Homo sapiens: one gene and its partner. The protein of the gene in region 1 purifies or fractionates together with the protein of each later gene. This does not show direct contact. Each region holds a gene or a part of one and is shown in the gene's direction. Other genes may lie near its edges. The genes, in order: SMS and KYNU.

Region 1 (7,000 bases):
GAGTGTCCTTAGTGTGAAAATAAAGTCACTGCCTCATTCATCATTTTGTTAAATTTGTGATACCCAAGTTAGTATTATAAAACCTTTGTTTGTCTTAATCCTTTCTTTAAAGTATTACTATTTCAGAATTCTTTGATATACCCAAATTCTCCTTAACCTGTTGCGGACATTGACCAAATGGTGATTGATGGGTGTAAGAAATACATGCGAAAAACGTGTGGCGATGTCTTAGACAATCTTAAAGGAGACTGCTATCAGGTAATTGTTTTCTGGATAATGTAGTTTTAAGTGAACTAATAATATAAGTTATTGATCAGAATTGTGCCTTATTAAAACAGCTTTTAGTATAGTTGGTTGAGAAGATAAATACATCATCTGTCTCTTCATATGAGTTATATGTATATTTGTATTTAGGGTGCACACGTACCAATGATGGGAAAGCACCAACTCCAGATTCTCTGAATTAAATAAAATTAATTCTTTTTTTTTTTATTATACTTTCAGTTCTACGGTACATGTGCAGAATGTACAGGTTTGTTACATAGGTATACACGTGCCATGGTGGTTTGCTGCACCTATGAACCCATCATCTAGGTTTTAAGCCCTGCATGCGTTAGGTATTTCTCCTAATGCTATCCTTCCCCTAGCCCCCTACCCCCGATCGGCCCCGGTGTGTGATGTTCCCCTCCCTGTGTCCATGTGTTCTCATTGTTCAGCTTACACTTAGGAGTGAGAACATGCGGTGTTTGGTTTTCTGTTCTTGTGTTAGTTTGCTGAGAATGATGGTTTCCAGCTTCATCCATGTCCTTGCAGAGGACATGAACTCATTCTTTTTTATGGCTGCATAGTATTCCATGGCATATATGTGCCACATTTTCTTTATCCAGCCTATCCTTAATGGGCATTTGGGTTGGTTCCAAGTCTTTGCTATTGTGAATAGTGCCGCAATAAATATACGTGTGCATGTGTCTTTATAGTAGAATGACTTATAATCCTTTGTATGTATACCCAGTAATGTGATCGCTGGGTCAAATGGTATTTCTAGTCCTAGATCCTTGAGGAATCGCTACGCTGTCTTCTACAATGGTTGAACTAATTTACACTCCCACCAACAGTATAAAAGTGTTCCTATTTCTCCTCATCCTCTCCAGCATCTGTTGCTTCCTGACTTTTTAATGATGGCCATTCTAACTCCAGCTTGGGCTGCAGAGCGAGAATGTCTCAAAAAAAAAAAAAAATCTTAATAAAAAAAAAAACCTTAATAATAATAATAAAAAAGAAACCTTAGTAGTAAAAATCAAGTAGTACACAAAGCTAAAGATTGCTTTTACATATGTACAAAATTTCCAAGTAAAATAATAAGCTAAATCTGGCAAATTAAGTCTATATTATGCTCAAGTAGGATTTAGTTAGAAGTGTAAAGATTTCAATTTTAAGAAATCTGTCAACTTAATTCGTTAGGTGAATAATTTAAAGGAGGAAAATAACAGATGACAAAGAATTTGAGAATATTTAGCAGTCATTTTAAATAAAAACTAATGCAGTATAGCCATGTAAAATTAGCCAGGTGTGGCGGCGTGTGCCTGTAATTCCAGCTACATGGAAGGCTGAGGCAGGAGAATCGCTTGAACCCGGAAGGTGGAGGTTGCAGTGAGCTGAGATTGCACCACTGCACTCCAGCCTGGGCAACAGAGGGAGACTGTCTCCAAAAAAAAAAAAAAATATATATATATATATATATATATTTCCATCTAACAAATCTGTACATGTACTTCCTGAATCTAAAATAAAAGTTAAATTATAAATTACTTGAATAAAATAAAATTGCAATAGAGATGAAACTACCTGAACGTTAATAGAAACTTAGGTTGTGGTAAATAGAAAAATAGAAAATATAATAGATAGCAAAAGCCATTTCCACTGAAAATAGGAAGAAGATGAGGATGCCTATTATCTTTTTCAACATTATTTTTTGAGGTAGCTGAGATAGTAAAGTAGATGAAAACAGTATAAATCTAATTATTTGTAGATGATGTGAATACTAGAAAATCCAGGAAACTTACGTAGGAAATTATTTGAATTAATGAGAATTTGATAAAGTGATTGGATAAAGCCAGCCTAGATTTTTTCTCTATACTAAATGCTAACTCATTTAAATAGGATTTCCTTCCCACCCATTTCCTTTCAAAGTAATCAAGTGTTAAATTCCTAGGAATATATTTAACAAGAATGGTATTGTGAGACTGGTATGAATTATGTTAAGATGTTATTGAAAGACATCAAAGTCTGAATATGTGGAGAGGCATGCTGTATTTCTTGTATTGAAAGAACAGGCCGGGCTTGGTGGCTCACCTGTAATCCCAGCACTTTGGGAGGCCGAGGTGGGTGGATCACTTGAAGTCAGGAGTTGGAGAACAGCCTGGTCAACATGGTGAAATCCTGTCTCTACTAAAAATACAAAAATTAGCCCGACGTGGTGGTGGGTGCTTATAATCCAGCTACTCTGGAGGCTGAGGCAGGAGAATTGCTTGAACCCGGGAGGTGGAGGTTGCAGTGAGCCAAGATTGCACCACTGCACTCCAGCCTGGGTGGCAGAGCAAGACTCCGTCTCAAAAAAAAAAAGGAACAATGTCTATTCTTCCCAATTTATTATGAGTAATCCCAAGGAGGGGGGAGGGGTTTAAAAGTAGACCAACTGATTTTGAAGTTGATTTGTAAAAATAAGTATCTAAGAATACCCAAGAAAACTTGAAAAAAGAATCATAGTGTGAAGCGAAATATGTCCTATTTGTTGTTAATGTACTATAAGGCACGATAATCAAATAGGAAGTATGAAAGGAATACACAAGGACCTAGGAATGTCAAAGGAACTTGAACAGGTCTGAGTATGTATTCCTACACACTGCTAATATGGTCTAAGATACATTTCAGTTGACTTGGGAAAAGCGTTAGTTGAGTTAGTGTGTGATGCCGGTATAAGAAGTTATCCATCTGCATGAGAACCAAGTTAGCTAACAATAGAAATAGGAATTTTGGTGACTTAGGCTCTAAATGTAAAAACTAATACATTTAAGACAATTTAGAGTACTTAACCTTGGAGTTCAGAAATCTCTTAAAGATAGGACACTCAAACTGTTAATGGTATTATAATGTTGTCATTACCAAGCCAAAAGTCAGACTAGAAGAAAGACTAGTAACAAGCATGACAGGGAATTGATCCCTTGAATAATGCAGAGTCCCTACAACTTAGAAATGAAGTTAGCTAAATTTAAAAAGGTATAGAGGATATTTACTGGTACTTCTCAGAATAAGTCAAATAACCTGTAAAAAGTACCACAAGACAGGCCGGGCGCGGTGGCTCACACCTGTAATCCCAGCACTTTGGGAGGCTGAGGTGGGCGGATCACGAGGTCAGGAGATCGAGACCATCCTGGCTAACATAGTGAAACCCCGTCTCCACTAAAAAAATACAAAAAAAAATTAGCTGGGCGTGGTGGCGGGCACCTGTAGTCTCAGCTACTCGGGAGGCTGAGGCAGGAGAATGGCGTGAACCCGGGAGGCAGAGCTTGCAGTGAGCCCAGATCGCATCACTGCACTCCAGCCTGGGCGACAGAGCAAGACTTGTCTCAAAAAAAAAAAAAAAAAAAAGTACCACAAGACGGTCAACCCTGTTGGTGGCCCAGGAAGTTCTTGTGAAAACATTAGCAACAGACTTCACAAAATTTAGTAGAGGGGCAATATCTCATGCTGGGGAGGTTGTGGGGAGACAGGTGCTCATATGCATTGCTGGTTGGCGTGTGAATTGCTATCAAAACCGGAACACACGGCTTCTAGCCGGTGTTTGAGCACACAGCCCACAGTTAAAAAGGTGTCACTACAAGGTTTTATTATAGCTGTGCTTGTAGTGACCAAGGCTTGGCAATGACAACAGAAAGAATGTTTTTAGTGGAATGGTGTATTTTTTAAAATGTGTGTTATTACCTGGAGAGATGTTGGGTGAAATGTTCAAGTTCCAAATGATGTGTGGGATTCAAATTTTACAAAAGAGAACATACATTTGTGTTTGTGTGCAAGTATTCGTAAGAATCTGTGTGAACGTATGGAAAAAATATGAGCATATCAAACAGGATTAATACATGGATTGAAAGCAACGGTGGTGTTAGTACCTCCTATATTTTTCCATAGTTGGACTTGTATGATGCATTGAGGCAAGTTATAAAACAATAGGACAGAAAAGTCCCAGTTTCTTAAAATTATAACTGTGAGGCTATAAGAAGAATGATGAGAAATAACATGGGATAGGTTATCTTAGGGAATTGTGGTGAACTTTTTTTAATTTTTTTTGAGTCAAGGTCTTGCTCTGTCACTCAGGCTGGAGCACAGTGGTGCGCGATGATCATGGCTCACTACAGCCTCAAACTCCCGGGCTCAAGCGATCCTCCCACCTCAACTTCCTGAGTAGCCGGGACTACAGGCAGATACCACTAGGCCCAGCTGATTTTTCTTTTTTTTCTAGAGACGGGCTTTCACCATGTCGCCCAGGCTGCTCTAGTACTCCTGGGCTCCATTGTTCCGCCCACCTCAACTTCCCAAAGTACTGGGATTACAGGTGTTGGGCCACTGACCCCAGCCTGGCAAACTCTTAAACTCTTGGTTTCTGACTATTATATTTAATTTTTCTTTTACTTAATGTATTTTTTTTTTGAATTAGAAAACTAAAAGATGACAGTAACTCCTGTTTAGTTCAGGATGTTGCTTAGATCCAGATGTGTCCCCAGCATAGAGCCTCAGTACTTCAAAGATACAGCCAACCTCAAACTTCTTTTCTGTGTTAACTATATATGATCTGTATGGGAATTCCAGCTGGTCTCTTTATTGACTCTGATGGTGGGAGCTGTTATATATAGCTTTATTAGCAGTAGCCCAAGCGTTAGAGAAAATTGAGAAATAACATGTTAATAGTTTGAGTAAGGTGCAAAAGTGAATCCATAAACAATGAAGTCATTCAGTGCTTAGTATAAAAGAAAAATTAGGCTGGGTACGGTGGCTCATGCCTCTAATCCCAGCACTATGAGAGTCTGAGGTGGGCAGATTGCTTGAGCCCAGGAGTTCAAGACCAGCCTGGGCAACGTAGTGAGACCCTGTCTCTAGAAAAACTTTTTAAAAATAGTTTATTAATTAAAAAAATAAAAATTAAAAGAAGATGATACAGATAGTGATAGGAGAGGCAGTATAGATTAGAGATGAAAGTATGAAGTTGGCTTTCAGATAGTAATAGGTATACTTCGTGGATCTATGGGCAAGCTGGATAACACCTCAAGTTTGTTTCTGCATTGGTAAAATGGGATGATAATAGTGCCTCTAGGATTGTTGTTTTATTGAAATGAGAAGGCATATAAAGCATATATGGTAAGCACTTAATTTTTGCTGTTAACAGACATAGATGAAAGTTTTTTGGTTCCTGTAGCAGTTGCTGTGGATAGCTGTGGATATAAGCCCATACTTGGCGCTTTTTTCCTCCTTCCTTTACTATTGTTTTTTGTTTAACTACATCCACATGTTGGCTCACTCATCTATTCCTGTTCTTTCTGGAAGGTTCTAATAGAAGACTGTATCCCGGTACTGAAGAGGTACGCCAAAGAAGGGAGAGAATTTGATTATGTGATTAATGATTTGACAGCTGTTCCAATCTCCACGTCTCCAGAAGAAGGTAGATTTTTTTAACCAAGATATTTATGATGGAAATGTTTCTCTTGGCACCATGTGAGGGTGAAAGGATCCTAGAGATTGTGTAGTTCTCTCACGTTTTTGAAAAAGGGAGTTAAATTGAGGTCCATGGTGGAAAGATGACTGGATTTGGCTTCAATTCCTGTTCTGCCACTCAATGAGTGAACTAATTCAGTCATTTGAAACAAAAATGAAGTAAAATGACTCATTACATTAATGAGACAGTAAATCATTTGACAATTTATTTAAATTATGTGATTTTCAACCTGTATTGGTACAAACTGGTCACTTATCTAAGCAACGACATAGATAATTCCCTTTCTCAAACCAGATGTTTGTTCCAAATCACAGCTAGTTCGTGTTTTTTTCTATAAACTCAAGTTCCTGCTGAGTTTGCAGGCTCTGAATTTCTCTCAGGATTTTGCTGCTTGCCCCCTTATTTAAAGCAGTTTTCTTTCACGTTTCAGCCACTGCCTTTGTGTCAAATCTATTGGTATTTTGAGAGCGAGCAGTGCTAGGTGGATGTGATTTTGGCATCCAAAATCAATTTCATTATCGTTCATGAACAAGCTCTTTGAATAGTGGGTCTTACACTCGTGGCTCTTTTTCTTTTTCCTCTTTTGGTATTGAGTATTCGAATATTTTACTTCAGATGTTGTGGATACATACAAACCCATATTTATGAAACTTGTTCTTTTAAACATTCAGATTCCACATGGGAGTTTCTCAGACTGATTCTTGACCTCTCAATGAAAGTGTTGAAACAGGATGGGAAATATTTTACACAGGTAGGCTACTTAACAGTTTTTTCCCTCAAAACGCTCTAAGACTTTCCTGTTTTGAAATCTGAATGCACATTTTTGAAATGTATATCTATTAAGGATAGAGCGGCATCATCGGATTATGTTCTTTCAAACAGTAAGCTTCTACGTTGACCTGTTGTCTGTTGGGAATTAATGAGTTATCAGCCCTGGTCTTTCGCTGTAGTATGAGCTGCTGCCACCAGATGGAGACACAGACTGATTTTCTTTTTTCCCCTCCCCTCATCAACATACACTTGATGACAAAGCTCTGGCTGTACTGTGAACTCCTGCCACCAGATGGAAGCAGATTGTGGTGTTTTTCTCATTCTCTAGGGGATTCTAAACTTAAACTTTAAAGATTACATTAATTGGGGTTAAAAATATACATATATATCTCCTATTGAAATCCTTAACAAAATTTTGAAAATGACAGCAAAGACAGCTAATTGATAATCCAGTCTCTTGGTACA
Region 2 (11,600 bases), on another chromosome or scaffold:
GATGAGATTTGGGTGGGGACTCAGAGCCAAACCATATCACCATAGTTTGCTTAATCCTGGATTTGATAACTATAAAAAAGTCATCAAGTTTTAACATTCTTTTAGTCAGTCATAGTGTTAACTTATCTCTGACTAGCTATCTTAACCCTATTGAATTTAACTTGCTACAGTTCAATCTGCTTAATTCTAATTAGTAGAGCATCTGTTATTAATTTACCTTTTTTATATACTTAGGCAGATCTTTTTTTTAAAGCTCCCTCTATTGTGTGTGTGTGTGTGTGTGTGTGTGTGTGTCTGTGTGTGTTCTGTAAGAGAAACCACTTGACCTAACAATCCTAGAGCTAAAAGTCAGCTTCATAGGTCATTTCATTCATATTTCTGCCTTTGGGAGACATTACAATTACATGCCACTAAAAGCTGATGCTCTCTCTCATTGACATGGTTTCATAATAGAATAGCAAATGTTGAGCAGAATAAGGAATCCTGGCTTGGGAATAGGAAGGCAGAGAATGAGATCCAGAAAAACTTCCAGAAGAGGTCATTTTTACCTTGGGTCTAAGATTTCTGGTGTTCTGCTAAGAAGTTGGGGACAAGGGAGGTGGGAACTGCTGGTAAACGGGAAATAACGTCGATATTTTAGTTCCATGGAGCTTATCTTAAATATCTCAGAAATCCTACTTAGGAAGAAAAGTTTAAGTCTTGCTCTTTTACTCTCCAGTACTCTAGTATCTTTATGGACACTTTTAAAGTTACCTTCTATGATAATGACATGATATTAATTTCTCAGAACTGCAGTTAATCCCTGGGGTCTGTGGATTCCGAATTTCAAATCCTCCCATTTTGTTGGTCTGTTCCTTGCATGCTAGTTTAGAGGTAAGTGATGTGTGTTTCAACCTTCCCACATCTTTGCGTTTTTTCTTGATCTGTTTGTGACAATTCATAGTACTTTCTCTGCTACACAGCAAGATGATACATGTGCACTGTGCATGAACAAGGGACAGAAGGCAGCATTCCCCTTTAGGACAGTGATGATGTGGTGAGGGTCTCCCTTCATTCATGTCACCAGCCCCCAGCACAATGCTTGGCACATTGTTGGCACATAGTAAATATTAAATGGAACTCTTTTGGGGAGATACGTTTTTTACTCCACTTAGAATCTGTTTAAACATGAATAAGTTATTTAACCTTCTCTTGGCCTCTCTTTATACCAAATAAGCATGCAATATTTAGTTCTTCATAAATTCGCTCATTCAACATAAATTTATTGAGAAAATATTGTGTGCCTGATGTGATTACTAGGGACTGTACTTTTTCTAGTTCATTGTAGGTGAATGAACTGACCAAGTACCATGTGACAAAGCTAGGAAAGACTTACTTGAAGGAAAAAAGAATAATCAGAGTAAACCAAAGATTAAATAAGGTTGTCTCATAAGGTAGGGTGGTTTTATGATTTTTTTAAATTGGGACTTCTATGCCATTATGTCCATTTATAGTCTCCACTATCACTGACTCAATATTTTCCTTTAAATTAATTTATATTTTTATTTAGGTAAATTTAGTCTCACCCTGAAATGATAAATATACATAACAAGAAAATGAAATTGTGATTCCTTAGATACTATTATTTAGTGTTAGACTAAATGTGGCCAAGTAAAAATATATAGGTTATATAGTATAAAATTCATATATAATGTAAATGTATAAATATTTACATAAATAATGTAAATATATAAAGTAATTGTATATTTTGTATACCTATATTTAAGTAAAATATATTTTAAGTAAATGTGCATATATATTTCTAATAGAAGTTTTACATAGAACTATTCAAACAAGGATTTGAAATTTTTTCATGTCTCCTTCTAAAATCATGTAGTTTATGATATTTTGGCAAAAACTTATAGAGGATTTCAGCATCAAATGAGTGACAGGATGAAGATTCAAAATTCCTTCTAATCTAAAATTGCATAATTCTGTGAACACTTACAGCAGTTTCTCATTCTGGCCACTGGATGGCAGCATCAAGTTCCTCTGTTTTTATTAAATTTCACCACTGGATAGTGATCATCACCTCATTTCATTCTGTCTCAATTTAAAGCGCACCTACTCAGTTTAACCACTAGATGGAGCTTGTGTTGTTTTCACTTCATGGCAGAATTTTTCTTTAACTTGGAAAATAGACACAGTAACGAGATTTTTCAGCCAGTGATATATATTTTTGACAGTTTTTTGAGTAAAAATCTGCTTAGTAAATCAGATAATGATATTTGAGTTGTTTTTATAGTATCCATTCAGATAAATATTTTGTTTAAACATTTTAAAACAAAATAAAGTTTCTGCATTCCTTGCAAGTTTGTATCAGCGAGATGTGTGACAATATCAGAAGCACCAGGACATACCTTAGGAAGAGCTTGTACCTAAAGTAATTTCCTCTGGTGCCCATATCTTTGCAAATAACTTCTCAGACGTACCTGGAAATTTCCTTTTAGACGCCTTCACTTTGGCATACTTTCTGCAGTGGACTGGCTTTTCTAGTAGTATTCACCCTTCTCTTGTGGGAAAGGAAGCACATTCCTATTCTTCCAGCCACTGTTTTCCTACCACACTGTATTAGAGTCACCTAGACAAAGTTTTTATTTTCAGTTATAATCTGAGAACTGATTTATTTTTTCTTTTTAATATCTAAACTTAAACCTCAGCCTCCTGAGTAGCTGGGACTACAGGTGTGCACCGCTACACCAGGCTAATTTTTGTAGTTTTTTGTACAGATAAAGTCTTACTATGTTACCCAGTCAATATCTAAACTTAAAACCCTAAAAGCCACAAGAAGAATGATATGCATTTCTCTGGATCTTCTAATCACTTACATATTTCCCTTGAGCCTCTTTCTGCTCATTTCACTGCTGAGACTATGTTCTAACCAAAATTATCTTTAGTTAATCAAGCCTTATGTTGGTAAAAGTGTTTTTTCAAAATTCTTTCCTACTGTAAATTGCAAAATTTTTGAATTACAAACTAATGCATTGAATTGCTTCCCTTTCTCTGTTAAAATGTCTTATTTTCTAGACATTTATGGGTTTCTCATGTGAGTAAACATCAGTGAATTAACTATGCTTCTATTAATACTTACCTTCCTTTAAGTTTTATTTATTTATATTTAGAGATGAGGTCTTGCTCTGTTGTTCAGACTGGAATGCAATAGTACGATCATGGCTTAGCATGGCCTCAAACTCCTGGGGTTCAAGTGATCCTCCTGCCCCCACCTTCCAGGTAACTGGGACTGCAGGACTGCACCACCACACTTGGCTGATTATTATTATTTATTTATTTTATTTCTTTATTTTTGAGACAGGGTCCCCTTCTGTCACTCCTAGAGTGCAGTGATGGGATCTCAGCTCACTGCAACCTCTGCCTCCTGGACTCAGTTGATCTTCCCACCTCAGCCTCCACAGCAGCTGGGACTACAAGAGTGCACCACCATGCCCGACTAATTTTTGTATTTTTTTATAGAGACAGGATTTTGCCATGTTGCCCAGGCTGATCTTGAACTACTGGCTGCAAGTGGTCCTCCTGAGTAGCTAAGACTACAGGGCATGCCACTGTGCTCAGCTTATTTTTAAATTTTTTTAGAGATGAGGTCTGGCTATGTTGTCCACGTTAATCTGGAACTCCTGGCCTCAAGCGATTCTCCTGCCTCAGTCTCCTGTTTGAAATGTTTGTTTTTCAGTGCTATAAAGAAATAGCACTTGAACGCAAATTTAATTTATTTAGTAAGGCCATTTTTACTTCCTGCAGAGAGGATACACTCGCCAGCAGTTTTGCCATGAGAGTACACCGAACAAAGGAGACAGGGTCATTTATAACCTGACGTGTCCACCCTACTGCTGTGTCCAGTTCCAATGGCTGGAATGGGACCTCCCATTCTGTATTTGTCCCGATTGGCTAGTAACTTAGAACTTTTTAAAAGACGTAAAGGTAGAGGGTAACAAAGGAAGGAGGAAGTAACTTGTGGAATGCTAAGAAAGGTAAAAACACTTTTAAATAAGGAAGAGGAACAGGCTGTGACCTAATGCTGCTTGGACCAGTATAAGCATGCCAGGGCAAATATTTAGGCTAAATTGTGGGAGCTAAAAACATAAAGTATATTGATTTATTTATTACAGCTAGCAGATATTTAAGAATGTTAGCACAGGTCTTTGAATAAATTTTGCTTCTAAGAGAAGTTACTATTTATTCCTAATTAGACGGGAAGGAAAGTCTTTGAAGAGGAACCTCTACTTTACTTTTTATACTCCTAAGCAGTTGGGATGACAGACGTGAACCACTGCACTCAGCCACCTTATCTTTTTAAACCAGTTTATTCCATTTTAGGAGATAGGTGGTTGAAGTTTCAATAAACGAAAGAAGTAAATGCATGAATCAAACTGCCTCTTTGTTGTCTCTACTTTTAAGAAATATTCAACACAGTCAAATACGAACTGGAGGAGAGATTCTATACTTAAGAATCAATCACATATAAATAAGACCTTAGATTTTTAATGCAATGACTTTTTAAAAAGATATTAATATGGCTTTTTTTAATAAATACATGTGTATATGGTTGATTGATATAAAAAATAGCACATTGTAATCAGTTTCAAACTGTCCTTTTGTTTATATTTTTTTATCTGAATCATTTATACAATAGTTCTTAAAATATTGTGGATCAAGGGATGAAGCCTGAGGCCAGGAACCTGGTGGCAAGTACTCTCTCCCTCAATGGACACGAAGTGTGACCTTACACAAGCAACAACTCCCTTTGGATGTATTTGCCTTATTTTTTAAAGTAAGATGTTTGGACAAGATTATTTTGGAAGTCTCCTCACTTTCCAAAATACTTAAATTTAAACAATACGTATATTATATTTTGAGGGTTCATATTTATGTGTAGCGATAGGTAGACAATATTTAGTCCCTTTCAGTATTCTGAATTCATAATGAAATAAATGGCTTCAAAATACAAAGTTAGAGCATTCAATTAAAATACATGGCGAGTCAGAAGACTCAACAAAGAAATGTACTATACGTTTCCTTTCAAATTTCCTAGAGAGACAGTTTTAAGAATTTAAGAGAAAAATATGACAATTGAAAACATCACACCAAACTTATTTTTCCTGTTTAAACTTATCTAGCTTTTCAAGCTTTGTGTTCATTTTGTCAGTAAGAAAAAAAATACAAGTAGTTGAAACTCTGCAAAGTATTATCTTCTAAGCTGAATATTTTTCAAACCACAGTTTTCATTTTTTCTAATTTAAAAAAATTATTTTCTCAATATTGAAAGCATAACATTTATGAGAAGCAAAAAAGAAAATAGAATATTTATGTTACTTCCCTATTATTCTCTCTCAATATTTTTATGTGAAGCTCAGAATAGACTTTTACCCTCTGTGAGATGAATTTAAAAGTGCCTCAGAATGCAGTTGCCCTTATTGTGGTTGTAATGGAGAAAGTAAGTTTTATATTTAAAAGTTATTTTATGATTTAAAGAGTGTTAACATTCCACAGTATATTAAGATGGAAGCTATTTGTCATACCAAAAAAATTGGTTTCTAGTTATCAAGAGAAAGCTTCAAGAGCAACATTCCCTACGCCCCTTTAAAAACTAAATGCAAGTAATATTCCTCCAAGTTTTACTAACCTATGCACACAAATGAACTATCATTAAATGTGATACTTCACATATCGATTGCCCCCATGTACATATTAGGGCACCCATAGCATAACCACAAAATTTCCTAGAATTATTTATTATTTAGAATTTCTTAGAATATTATTAAGCTCCAGAGAGAATCTTGGAAAGATTCCTCACATAGTCTTTTTATTCCAAACTTCACAGCCAAACCAGCTGTGGCCCGTGCCTTGCCTGTCCCTGCTCCTCTGGGAGAATTTTGATTCTTGTCCCTTGACCCAAAACTTGGCAGTGTTCCCTTGAGTCTTCATTATGCCAAGTCTACCTACATTTGCTTTGCCCAAGAAAATGAAGGAGATGCCTCCTACCAAGTTCTGTGTAACCTGGGTCATCTGAATCTTGGAGCACTATTATTTGTACTGCAGATCTCTCTCGGGAGCTTATGAAGCCAAGATATCAGCCTCTACTTGAGCTGTCTCTGTAGACTTCAGACATTGTCTGGGAGTTGTGGTTGAAGAGAGAGACAGGCACCATTCTGTCCTGTTTTTCCTCTCTTGCTTAGATATCATTTACCTTCAGTACAGTTCCCAGCCTCTCCTTCAGCCAATCCATAGCCTCTATACAGTATAGTTCCAGGAAATCTATGGCTGAATGGTTTGAGTTTTATTAGAGTGCCTGCCTACACATGCCACGTGTACATACAGGAATAACTGTTTTCATAGACTTGATAAAGTCTCAATATCACCAAATGACCCTATCTTTGCTCTTGATATCTTTGCTCATGACACAGAAAAGGAACATTAAGTGGCAGGCCAGTGCATCACGCTCTGTTTGCAGTTCATTTAGTTCTTATACATAGGATATATTTTTACACTCTACTTGACCTTAAGAGATAAGCCAGAAAAGCACATCTGTTCTGACCCCTAATATTCCAACACCAGTTATTGTGTGCCCTTGTCACTCATCTTAATATAAGACATCTCAGCCCACAAATGGCAGTATTTTCACACCAGTGCTAGAGTTTAGAAGGGGGGAAATGAGAGAAACCAAGCCCAAATGCTTCAGTAAAAATAAATGCATTATCTAATATTATTTGCTTTCCTCTCTGAGGAAACTTAGCATTATTATTTAACTGCTTGTTTTCTTATTGTTAAACTGGAAGAGATTTGGGAGTCAGTAAAGCAGTTATAAATATCACCAGTAACACTGCTTTACACATTTGCACATGTTTAGATCATATTGCACTTTTTTGAGGATAAACAAACTTTACATCAAAGTTGGAAAAGTCTTCTTGATTATGATTTCAAAAAGTGGTTTTGGGGAAAAGCTTACATTGTATGATATTTAAATCCATTTATTAAGGTATGTTTTACTTGATTATACTAACTTAATTTAAAATAATTTTGAAGGTATGTTCCCGGACCAAATTGAGGGTTGGGCTGCTATTTCTCATGGCCCAATAACAAGATGCAGATGAACAGGGGAGGAAGAGAGTTTTTATTTCTGTAACTGGTTACAGGGAGAAGGCCTGGAAATTATCACCAGACCAACTCAAAATTACAAAGTTTTACAGGTGTAAGTGTGCATTCATCTGAAGACATAAGTGATTAACTTCTTTTAATCTACAACTAAGGTCTGAGTCCTGAAGACCTTCCTCTGGAGCCTCAGTAAATTTACTTAATCTAAATGGGTCCAGGTGCTGGAGTGATTACCCTTATCTTGTCTTCTGCTAAATCACTGAAGTTTGAGGAGTTCCTTTAGACCTTCAATAAACTTGTTTGTAGAGGCCTGGAGAGTTTCTTCACAACCACAGTAAAACTTGTTTAATCCTGAATGGGTCCTGTTAAGAATTCCTTCATTATTCTGTCATGCTTTAAGGCCCAGGGAAAGCCTAGGCAAAACTCTTGATAGGCTTTTGTTCATCCCAGCCTTTGTATAAGGGCACTGACTTTTTTAGTTTTTAATATTTAATGTAACCACTCGGTCAGTACTGAAACAGTTGTGATGGAGGCCTGCATTAGTGAAACCTGGCCTGCCACAGGTACATGATATTAACTTACATTTTCTTCCTTTGCAAGTTTTATTTAAGTGACATTTGTACAATTTTTCTGTCATGGAAATTTTACCTTCAGTATTTAATAGCAAAGCATTTAAAGGAGGGCATGATTTTACACAAAAAGATTATGTAAAGGGAGATATTTATTGGAAAGATCAAATATGGGCATTTCCTTTTTATGCATGATTTACTCTTAATTTTTGCTTCTTTGTAAATCAATAAGACACTTTAATCTGATTGTTTCTCATTCCACAGATCTTTAAGCAAGCGACAATGAAGGCATTGCGGAAAAAATCTGTTTTGCTAACTGGCTATCTGGAATACCTGATCAAGCATAACTATGGCAAAGATAAAGCAGCAACCAAGAAACCAGTTGTGAACATAATTACTCCGTCTCATGTAGAGGAGCGGGGGTGCCAGCTAACAATAACATTTTCTGTTCCAAACAAAGATGTTTTCCAAGAACTAGAAAAAAGAGGAGTGGTTGTAAGTATGTCTTGCTTTGCTACCAGATTTTGTCTATGGGCCGCATGTTAGGGATAAAATTTGGACTCTTTGGTTTATTCATTGTTGCATGTTATTTCACATCAGTCAGTCAATTAAGGATAAATTAAGTGCCAACTAAGCCCTCAGCACTGTGCTAACTGAAAGGCATAGAGATCTGTCGTTTCTGATAAAAGAGAAGATACCACAAACTTGGCTTATAGGAATAGTTTTTTGTAACTTACTCATTCTTTTCATAACAGTTTGGGCAGAAAAAAGTTATTATTTCATCATACTCAGTCAGGACATTGTTTTCTCTAGTCTGTACTACAATTCATTTATTGGATGAATGGAATTAAAGATCATACCAATTTATTGAAGGGTTAAAAAAGAAAGTCTTATTTAGTCGCTTGATCAAATTAAGTTATTTTCAACCTTGTCACTTCTGTCAAAAAAGATATATATACACTTCTCAGGAGTGGTAACATTGCAAGGAATAATTTTTTTTTAACCCTTCAGCCTATATGACCTTCTTGGTCTCTTGAAGAGAACTAATAAATGTGAACTGAGTAATTTCAGGGAAAAAAGATAATGTATCTACTTCCAATGATTATGTAATTAAGGCATTGCTTGGCTCATGTTTACCTGTAGGAGAGGTTACTCCCAGATGCTGGAGACACAAGTCAGAAATTCAAGTTTCTAAATCAAACTCTGCTGTCGTCAAACTCTGTCCTCTTTGGAAAGTTCATTAGGATCTATTGGCTTGAAATTTTCATCCGTATTTGGGGTATAAAATAAATTACCTCCAAGAGTTGTGATTGGATTGAAATGGGACAGCACACATAAACTATATACTATATTGTCTAGCCTATAGCAGGTGTTTTCTAAAGTTAACCATAGTGATCTCTAGGCATGTCAAATTATCTGGTGCTACTTCAGGACCTACAATGTAGCCCACTTCTTATTTGTGAGATCAAAGATTAGAGAATTAAGTTCAAGGATAATTTACTAAAACTCTCCAGACCCTAATGAGGTTTTCATTCACTTAAATTCACCCAAGAATTCCAGTCCTTCCATGGGGTCCCCACGGGAAAAAAAAAACAAAATGTATTTATGGTCTATTAAATGCTTAAGGAAGATAGTTGCTGAATAGATTTCAGGAATCTATCTTGGCTATTTATGCACCAATCCATTCTTATTTCTTAAATTATTATCAAGAGAAAAGTTTCATAAAACAGAAAAACACCATGTTTTAAAGTAAAAAAATTTTGCATATATATTAATTTTTAGGGAAATCATTATGAAAGTGCTTTACATAAGTTTATCTGGAATGTAGATTTTCAACGTGTGAATAATGCTAACATTATTGTGGCTTTATTTTTTCCCCACAGTGTGACAAGCGGAATCCAAATGGCATTCGAGTGGCTCCAGTTCCTCTCTATAATTCTTTCCATGATGTTTATAAATTTACCAATCTGCTCACTTCTATACTTGACTCTGCAGAAACAAAAAATTAGCAGTGTTTTCTAGAACAACTTAAGCAAATTATACTGAAAGCTGCTGTGGTTATTTCAGTATTATTCGATTTTTAATTATTGAAAGTATGTCACCATTGACCACATGTAACTAACAATAAATAATATACCTTACAGAAAATCTGATATAATTTTTCAGAGTCTGTGGCACTAAGGAGTCCACAGGGCTGCCTAGGTGCTTTGTGTTTGGGGGACCAAAACTGTGTTGGTTCAAGTATTATCTATACAGTCTCTATAAGCTGTCACATTTCATGGTCATTGAAATGTTTTATGTTGGTTTAATTTCTGATTTAACTGACAACTTCATAATGTATGTGCAATTATTGTGTCAAATTTAGAAATATTACTTTAGCTTCAATTTACCAAGGAGTTTCTTTGAAGCATTGTAGTCTGATATATATATATATATATATATATATATATATATATATATATATATATGTGTGTGTGTGTGTGTGTATATATATATATATATATCATATATATATGATAGTGGCTTTCAAATTTTTTTGGGTACAATCCACATTGCTCCTGCTGATCTGTAATATCAGAAACCAGTATTTATGTGAATATATGAGAAATATTATTGATTCTAAGATATTTTATCATATTTTAACATCTTTGAAAGAGGACCCATCTTTCAATTTTCGATCAATAGTTTCTTACAGTCACCATTGGCCATCTTTCTCGTTACCATCTATGAAATTAGCATGCATCTCAAATAAACAGTTACCATCTTCTATTTGATAAAATAGTCTAAATAGCAAAAATAAAAGTTTTTACAATTATTTGCCTGTGCTCTAATAGGTACTATTCTATTTTATCTCATAAGAAATGTTGGAAACTCATTATATTGATTTCCTTACCCACTCATGGGCCCTAATTCACACTTTTTAAGAATGTTTCTTTCTTTAATGTTATCATAATCTCTTACTTTTTAAATGAGAACTTCCCCTAATATAAGAGCTTAGATATTATATTACTATGTTTCCATAGTAAATAAATAACCCCAAGATCTTTTTGGGGATTAGAGATATAAGAAATATGTGCTCCATCTCTTGACATCTTTATCTCAAATCTATGGACCTTTCTTACCCACTGTGAAAAACCTAAAGTTACACTTAGCCCTGTTGGACTTACCTAGTTTTCAATTGTTGATGCCACAATCATTATTTATAAGTTGACAAAATAGTGTAGATTTGTATACATAGTCAACAAAAAGAGTGACATAATTATTGCCTCCAATTAAACAAGTTTGAATGAAATAAACAAACTTAGATAAACACTTCGGATGGTAGACGTAAACAATAATATGTGGAACTCCAACATCAACACCTACCAATACCAGTAACTACTGATATTTATCATGTACTTACCATGTACCATGTATTGTGCTACATTACTCATGTTATCTCCCTTAATTGAGTGGCTACATACTGCTTTAGCAAATCTTCCTACTGTAACTAATCCTCATAGATGGAAGAGTTCTCAAAACCTTAAAACTCATGCATAAGTGGATTCATATACATATATAAAAATATATATAAATATATATACTTTATATATATTTATATTTATATATTTATATATTTATATTTTAATATATTTATATAAATATATATAAAGTATAATATATATAAAGTATAAATATATATATATTTATACTTTAAGTTCTTGGATACACGTGCAGAACATGCAGGTTTGTTACATAGGTATACATGTGCCGTGGTGGATTGCTGCACCCATCAACCCGTCATCTACATCAGGTATTTCTCCTAATGCTCACCCTCCTCTTATCCCCAACTACCCAAAAGGACCTGGTGTGTGATGTTCCCCTCCCTGTGTTCATATGTTCTCA

The links.
Region 2: the proteins of SMS (region 1) and KYNU fractionate together in Homo sapiens (co-fractionation; 2 studies listed by BioGRID). This does not show direct contact.

Annotation. Positions count from the first base shown.
Region 1 is NC_000023.11:21,978,709-21,985,708, forward strand, and holds part of SMS (spermine synthase), read left to right. Parts: intron 1-168; coding exon 169-258; intron 259-5,595; coding exon 5,596-5,710; intron 5,711-6,435; coding exon 6,436-6,515; intron 6,516-7,000. UniProt on the Homo sapiens protein: Catalyzes the production of spermine from spermidine and decarboxylated S-adenosylmethionine (dcSAM).
Region 2 is NC_000002.12:143,032,449-143,044,048, forward strand, and holds part of KYNU (kynureninase), read left to right. Parts: intron 1-787; coding exon 788-873; intron 874-4,687; coding exon of another isoform or gene 4,688-4,723; exon of another isoform or gene 4,724-4,817; intron 4,818-7,979; coding exon 7,980-8,210; intron 8,211-9,598; coding exon 9,599-9,724; 3' UTR 9,725-11,600. UniProt on the Homo sapiens protein: Catalyzes the cleavage of L-kynurenine (L-Kyn) and L-3-hydroxykynurenine (L-3OHKyn) into anthranilic acid (AA) and 3-hydroxyanthranilic acid (3-OHAA), respectively. Has a preference for the L-3-hydroxy form. Also has cysteine-conjugate-beta-lyase activity.